Linked DNA regions of Homo sapiens. The protein of the gene in region 2 purifies or fractionates together with the protein of the main gene of each other region. This does not show direct contact. Each region holds a gene or a part of one and is shown on either strand. Other genes may lie near its edges.

Evidence for each region.
Region 1: the proteins of OR2T33 (region 2) and ANKLE2 purify together in Homo sapiens (affinity purification with mass spectrometry; one large-scale study listed by BioGRID and IntAct). This does not show direct contact.

Annotation. Positions count from the first base shown.
Region 1 is NC_000012.12:132,734,042-132,737,861, forward strand, and holds part of ANKLE2 (ankyrin repeat and LEM domain-containing protein 2), read right to left. Parts: intron 3,180-3,820; coding exon of another isoform or gene 3,172-3,179; exon of another isoform or gene 3,035-3,171; intron 3,025-3,034; coding exon 2,852-3,024; intron 1,472-2,851; coding exon 1,365-1,471; intron 535-1,364; coding exon 344-534; intron 31-343; coding exon of another isoform or gene 1-30. UniProt on the Homo sapiens protein: Involved in mitotic nuclear envelope reassembly by promoting dephosphorylation of BAF/BANF1 during mitotic exit.
Region 2 is NC_000001.11:248,274,932-248,279,413, forward strand, and holds the start of OR2T33 (olfactory receptor 2T33), read right to left. Parts: upstream 3,046-4,482; 5' UTR 2,834-3,045; intron 1-2,833.

The DNA.
Region 1 (3,820 bases), on a different chromosome or scaffold from region 2:
CCTGGTCAATACGGTGAAACCGCATCTCCACTAAAAAAAAAAAAAATACGAAAATTAGCCAGGCGTGGTGGCGGGCGCCTGTAGTCCCAGCTACTCAGGAGGCTGAGGCAGAAGAATCGCTTGAACCCAGGAGGTGGAGGTTGCAGTGAGCCAAGATTGCGCCACTGCACTCCAGCTTGGGTAACAAAGAGAGGTTCCGTCTCAAAAAATACTAACCTAAGGGAAAGTACCAGACCTTTACGTTAAAAACACCAAGAGACGAGAAACAGATGTGCGCATCCCGTCAGACCCCGGCCATGGGGGGCCCCTCCCAGCTGCCACAGCCACGCCTGCACATGCTTACCAGACGTGGTGGCTTTATCTCGGCAGGAGGCTTCCCGTTCTCCTGTTTCTTGTTGAGCCTTTTTGCCTATTTCCTGCTGTGTGAGATATTCTTCTAGTCTTTGCAGGCCTTCCTGGGAAGACAGATCAACAAAACAGCCCAGAAATTCCCAGTATTCAACCCAGGGATACCCCAGCTCATGAGCTAGCTCCCTGTAAGAAACAAAACACAATTAACCAGCTGTGAAACCAGAAAAAATACTCAGAACTACACAGAAAAAAGCCACTAAAGCTTCAAGTACCAAAGCAATGTCTGCAATCATGGTTATAATTTTCCTTTATCCTTAACTGGCAGCTGAAATCATACGGTGCATTTTCTGAAACAGCACGCCTCCTCACAGGTAAGCAGGACCCGGCACAGCTCTCAGGAGCCGTGAACCGGCTGCAGGCAGGAAGGAGGCCTCAGCCCGACAGACCCTCACGCCAGCAACCCAGGTCACACAGTTCAACTCCCACAGACGGACGTGTTCATGATCACGGAACAGCCCTGTGAACTTGCCCGTGGTTCTAGTCATGGCCAGGCACACGAAAGCCTGGAGGTCCTTTCTGGGTTCCAGTTGTACACCTGACACTGGGCACATATTTTGAGAAAATATTCTAAACAATTCCACGAAGCTTTATTTGATTACAGCATAATTTAGCTTTGTGGCTATGGCCTATTTTTTCCCAAGGAATCCATAGCATTATATGGTACCTTCTATAAAATATTAAGGTTCCTTAGAAACATGTCCCAGAACCAACAAGGAATTCCAATTAGAAAAGGAAAGGAAGGCACTGCAGACATCCCCCAGGTCTGGGACGGGACTGGCTTAAGCTAGAATTCCACAACATCCACAAGGAATTAGACCTTCACGAAAAGGACCAAGTCTCCCAGAAAAGCCTTCTGGAAATTGGTACTTTGAAGCTGTGATTTGACCTTCTGTCATTAATCAAAATGCAACCAACTGTGTGCCCCACGCTGCTGCGGCTCAGCCTTTCAGTACCTTCCCACTCTCTCAAAGCCTCTTTCCGGGTCCGACTTCTTGACGTGGTGAAGGAAGCCTGCTTTCTCTCGAGGTGGAGTTTTCCAGAGCTTGCGAAAATCTTCTGCCTATGAAGAAAAAAAAATGTATTGAGCCGTGTCAGGCACTGCGCCCCTCAGCTGCGGAAACCTGAAGAGCCGTCGTCATCGCAGTAGCTGCCTGTCTCCGCACACCCTTCCTTCTCTCCCCTTCACTAGCAGATCCCTGGGCCACGTGCCCACCTGTGGCATGGCTGAGTGGCCGCACGGCTGCACTCTGACCTGGGGGAGGGGAGGCGGTCTCCTTTCTTGCAGCCCCGTCTGGGCTGTGAGGTTCAGAACCAGGAGGGCCCGAGCACGAGGCCTCACCCTGAGGACAGTGGACGGCTCGGAGCTGCCACCCCGACGCACATGTGACACTGCTCCCATCGCAGGAGAAGAAACCAGATCTTTCTCAGTCACTCTCCCTAGAGCTTTATGCTTTATGCATCTCACCTAACCTTACCTGATACCACCTAATTTTGGGGCCATTTTCTTTTTTGTTTTGGAGACGGAGTCTCGCTCTGTCGCCCAGGCTGGAGTGCAGTGGTACGATCTCGGCTCACTGCAAGCTCCACCTCCGGGGTTCAGGCCATTCTCCTGCCTCAGCCTCCCGAGTAGCTGGGACTATAGGCGCCCACCACCACGCCCGGCTAATTTTTTGTATTTTTAGTAGAGACGGGTTTCACCGTGTTAGCCAGGATGGTCTCGATCTCCTGACCTCGTGATCCACCCGCCTCGGCCTCCCAAAGTGCTGGGATTTCAGGCATGCGTCCCGGCGCCCGGCCTGGAGCCGTTTTCATCGCAACTGATTTAGAAAGTTTCTAGCACAGGATGGTGCGTGCAGGTCAGTGTGTGAAGTATTCCAACAGGAGAAAGAATTGTCAACTGTAAATAAAAAAGTGTACAACCTTTGACCCAGCAACACCACCATTAAGGATTTCTCTGAACACTGGGGATGAGTAGAACCTGGGGCTGAGGCTTCCAGGAGAGGGACTTGTCTGAGAGGAAGCCAGCGGGGGCTGCAGCCACAGGGAAACGTGGTCAGGAGGTGGACGTGCAGATGGAGCTTTCCTAGTCACAACGGGCAGCCTCGCTACACCAGCAAGGTGCCTAGGACGGGCCATCAACACAGCAAGAACAGGGCGACACGCGCACAGGACGGGGCTGGCCCAGGGAATGTCTGCTTTGTTGAGACAGTGGCTCCCAGCACATCGGCCCTGGTAAGCAAGCCACAGAGCCAAGAACACACATTTCTCTGACAAACGTTCTCATCACCAATCACTGGTGGATGGTTTGAGATGAGGACAACCTTGGGGCTCCACAGGACATGGTCCCTGAGACCACGCACAAGGCAACAGGCTGGAACACCCAGCAGCACAGTATAGGGACAGCCAGGCACCACTTCCAGAAGCTTCTACAGCAGCTCACCTTGGCTGGACTCAGGGGCCCTGCGAAGGCTCTCAGGGTCAGTACCGGGTCTCTGGGGCTGCCTCCATAGCGGCTGACGTGAGAGGCCTCAGCCGTCTGGTCTGGGGACCACAGCTCCCCGATGACTGGAGAAGAAGTCTCTTCCGCTCTCAGGAGGGGCACGTAGTAGTGGCCTGAGGGAGGAGACAGGCACTGGCTGCAGGCTTCCGCCCCCTCCGCAGGTCAGGCCTGGGTGAGCAGGACGGGGATCACGCGAGCCCTTGCCAAGGCCTCTGCAAATGGATCCAACAGACGGGGCAGAGGGTGGTTTCCGCCAGAGCTCACTGCACTTAATGCAAATGGATACAATGGAAACAAAGTCACACAAGGTCTCAGAGCTCACTTCACTTAACCAGCCTCATTTTCCTCCACTGCTACAAGAAAAGAAAGAAAAGAAAAGGAAGCCCCAGGTAGTTAAAGGACTAAGGGGTCGGACCTGAGTGAATAAGAGTAGCACACAGTAGGAGCTTAATACATTTTAAAAATGTTATATTTCATTCCAGCCGGGTGCGGTGGCTCACGCCTGTAATCCTACCACTTTGGAAGGCTGAGGTGTGTGGATCACCTGAGGTCAGAAGTTCAAGACCAGCCTGGCCAACATGATGAAACCCCATCTCTACTAAAAATACAAAAATTAGCCGGGTGTGGTGGTGGGTGCCTGTAACCCCAGCTACTCATGAGGCTGAGGCAGGAGAATCACTTGAACCTGGGAGGTGGAGGTTGCAGTGAGCCGAGATCACGCCACTGCACTCCAGCCTGAGCGACAGAGTGAGAATCTGTCTCAAAAAAACAAAAAAAAGTAATATTTTATTCCTTCTCTCCTTTTTTTCTCCTCTTAGTTTCAGACAGAGTCTCATTCTGTCACCCAGGCTGGAGTGCTGTGGTGCAATCATGGCTCACTGCAGCCTCGAACTCCCAGGCTCAAGGGAT
Region 2 (4,482 bases):
ATTTAGAAAGCTTTTGCAGGTTGAGGACTGTTACATATTGAACATAAAAAAAAGTTTTTTAGTGTTTACCATTTTTAAACTCCATACAAAGAAGAGAACTTGTCAACTCATAAAGAGAAGAGCACAAAGAGGCAAAGAGCTAATTTCCCACTTTTATTCATAGAATATTCGCAAATGTCATGCCTTTGTATATTTGCAGGATTTTAGACCTCATCTCATACACAGATGGTCTCATTCAGGGCCTTCAGAAAGGCAGTGCCAATGACTGGTTAAATTACTACATCCACTATATGAGCATTCAGATGTGAGCAGACACAAACACACAGTAACACCAGCGTCTTTGAGATGGCTTATTTAAGCATTGGCTATCAGGGAAATAAACAAAGATTATAGGACAATAAAACAGGCAAAATAGGCAAAGACACTACATGTGCCAAGCCTGTGCCAAGCCTTGTTGGTTGCATTACTGTCTTCCTATGTAGTGTATGCAGTCCCTTTATTTTACATACTATTTAAAGTATCTTTCTCATGTGATTGCCACAGCCCACTGACTCCTTGACCACAGGCTTCCACTGCCTCCATTATAACTTTAAACCACCATCAGACTCCTTTTATTAATGCAGAATGCATGGATAAAGGAGGGCAGGACTTGATATTAAAAAGTCCTTGTTTAAAAATCACTGTTGTCCAAACCACCATCGCGCGTGTATACCTGTGTAATGAACCTGCATGTTTGGCACATGTATCCCAGAACTCAGAGTAAAATAAAATAGAATAATAAAATAGAGTGTGCAGAGAAGCACCAAAAAAAAAAAAATCACCTGTGTCTAGTCAGCTTTTTCCAGATTACAGTAGGTGTACCATTGCTGGTATGTGTCATGATTTTAGGAAGTATGTGAAATAACATTTTCTACCTGAAAAGTTACATGACTTTTATTTGTGCTAAGAAAAAGGTAAACATTAAATCATGGGAAAAAAGAATCATTTCTGTCATTTTATATTATGATATAAGGGGAAAGTTACTTAACATTTTTGTTTTCTTTTGTTTTGTTTACTCATATGTTTTTAAATCAGCGGTCCCCAACATTTTCCACAGATGGGGGTTGTAGGAGAGGGGATGGTTTCGGGATGATACTGTTTCACCTCGGATCATCAGGCATTAGATTCTCATAAAAAGCATGTGATATAGATCCCTCACACGTGCAGTTCACAATAGGACTCACACTCTTATGAGAACCTAATGCTGCTGCTGATCTGAAGGAGGCAGAGCTCAGTGGGTAATGCTCCTTCACCTGACGCTCACCTCCTATGCAGCCCAGGTCCTAACAGGCCACAGATCAATACTGAACTTTCTAAAAAGATTACTAAAAAGAAATTACATGATTTTTGCATATAACAGAGTTTGAAAATAGTTTTTTTAATGTCATATTGCACACCAAAACAAAATTTTAATTTTTAATTTAATTTATTAGTTTAGTTCATTTTATGGTGCCATATTTTGACGTATTCAGAAGCTTGACAATCACAGCATAAAATATTAATTAGATTATTGAACTGAAGGCTATGGTGACATGATGGTGAAAGTCTAAGATCTGAAAATTCTTAGATTCTCTAAATGCTTATACTTTTTCATTCTGAATGGTTATACTTATTCAAAATTGAATTCTCTTCTCTACAGACAGAGGTAAAGAGTAAACATCACTTTAATTTGGAACCATTGTTTTTTTCTTTAACATTAAAAGTTAACAAAAATAAATAAACCAGCATCATCCTAAGCTGTGAAAAATTATGATGTATAATATTGTTATAGATGAGACTTTTCAGCACATTGTATCAGTCAGATAATTTAATAGAAAATTTGGTTTAACTGTAGTAATTCTTCTTTCAGGTATACAGAGCTATTGCAGCTTGACTGTTTTTACTAATTACCATCCAATGTATTTTTTGAATAAAGGATTTTTTGGCATTGTAAATATACAGCTATATTTATTTGTCAAGTGGACCATTAATCCATCAACTAAAGGCTATATTAACTCAGCAAATTATAATAATGTGAACAGATGCTTATAAATATTTCTTCTTCAAGTCAATTCATGGGCTGTTATTAATTCTAAGCTATTAAATAGGATAGCTGGACTTAAAACATTCTAATATTTTTATATTTTATGTATAAAATATATATTTATATATTTTTCTACATATATTTATATATATTTCTAGTATGTATATTTATATTTACTTCTATTTGTCTTTCTTAGCTCTTCTAGGCAATTTCTTTAGATGTAGGTGAGGAATGTTGTGTCTATTAACTTCAAAACCATGCCCTTTCTGAAGCTGGTAGGTAAACTGATTATCATCCCCTTCCCCACATTCATACTTACTTGAAAACAGACACAGATCACTGTTCTGGAACAATAGAGTTCCACTCAACAATCTTATTTTCTCTTCTTTCTGACATCCTACCCTCCACAAAGGCAGTGTCTGTATGTCCACAAGCTATTGATATAACATGGGGAAAATATTGAAACAGCCACACTGTTCAGTAGAAAAGAATCCTCTAATACAAATTCAATCATTTGACTTAATTAACAACTTTATTCAAGAATTTTTGGCTTTTTGGTTCTGGGTAGACACAGACTGCATCTTACATATTCAAAACACCCCGTGGATGACAGGAAAACATTTACTTTGTGTGATTTGTCCCTCAACTTTACAAAGGTTACTTTACAATTCAAAATTCATATGTAGAATGCCAAATACATAATAAATATGAGTAATTTGAAATTACTGCCTAAAGTAAAGGAAAAATAATTCTCAAACAAATTAGACTCACCTTTGTAGTGGAGAATCACAGCCAGTGTGACATATATATGGGACTGAATCTTTCTGATGGTTTGAGTACAAATGTTTGCTTAATCTTAGTGTTGTGGATACTGCTTTGTGCCTCTGGTCTCATGCTCTATTTAGTTAAAAATCCTATGTGGTCACTGAAAGTTTCCAACAACCAAATATCTTCCCTGGAGCTATGCCACTTGGAAAGGTAAATCACCTTTGGCAAGGGAATACAGATTTCAGTATTTCCTAAGGGTGAATATATGTAGTGAACTAATTTAGCATCCAAGTTTTGGTAAAAGCAAAACGACTGTGATTGGGAAGATGAACAGATATGTCCCTGGCTAAGGATAGCAAGTGCAATGAATTAGTAAAGACAAAATCCAGAATTCTGATCATTGACAATCCCTGAACTGAATAAATATGACTTAATTACCTGAAATAAGTTTTTAATTTTCTGTAATTGTATCATGATAATAATAATATATTTCATTTATTGAACATTTCTACATGCTAGTGAATATGCTCGGCATTTTACATGCATTTACATGCGTGTTATTTAATCTTTTAATTAGCTGTTTGTTCTGTGAACTTCTACATTAATATAGCAATGTAAACAATGCTAACGGTTTTAAATACCATATTTATATTAACTGTCATGAGGTAGCAGAGTGAAAGAACTTTGATGTTCACATCATAGATTTGTGGTTCTTAAAGGTTGAGGAACATCTGAATCATTCAGAATACTTATGGATTACACTTTGAGAAATACTGCCTTTTATAAAAAAATCTGAAGGGGAATTTCAACTATTTTGAACTGGGTCACAATGCTTTGATAGCCTATAAACTAATCAATTCCCAACTTTGCATGTTTAAATGTTTAAATGTTTTTGTGTTTTGTTTTGAATCTAGCTTCTATTCCTTACCCATTTCATGATTTTTGGATAACATGATCTTCATGTTCCTTTCCTATAAAAGATGCATAATAAAATTGCTTGCTTTGTAGCATTATTGAAAGGAATAAATAAAATACTTGTAAACCACCTGGGAGACTATCTGGCCCATAGTATATTCTCTATCCATGTTCATTGATATCATTATTGTGATTGTTCTGAAAGAAAAAAAAATCCCTCTAAGGCAGAGTAATGTTGATTCTGGTCTAAATATTATAAAAACTTATCTAAAAGAAAATAAGATAAGGACAGGGTAGCCTGTTCTTTTGGTGTTTAATAGTTCTGCCCAAAGACTATTTAGTGCTCTGGGTGAATGCTTCTGTGTTTGATTTGCCATTTACCATAAATTACGGTCCAGAATCTGTGACGTTGTTATGTCAAGCAGACATGTAAAGAATTTCTGTCCGTGCCAAGTAAGACATAAACCAGTTTTATAATAATTGGAAACAAAACAAAAATAGCGAAACTTTTTTTTCTTTTGAAATCAAATTCACAGTGTCTTTTCCAATACTACTTCTCCAACTCTCACACCAACTAAGTGTCTTACTATTTAATTTAGTCCTGACACTTACTGCAGTCTGGAGCATCAGACTCCAGATGTCGCAGAAATCAATCCCACAAGACTGCCTTCCCTTCAGACGTCAGTCTCAAGTAGGGGGTATCCAGGTTACTTCTACCTGATTTGGATACAAAGTTG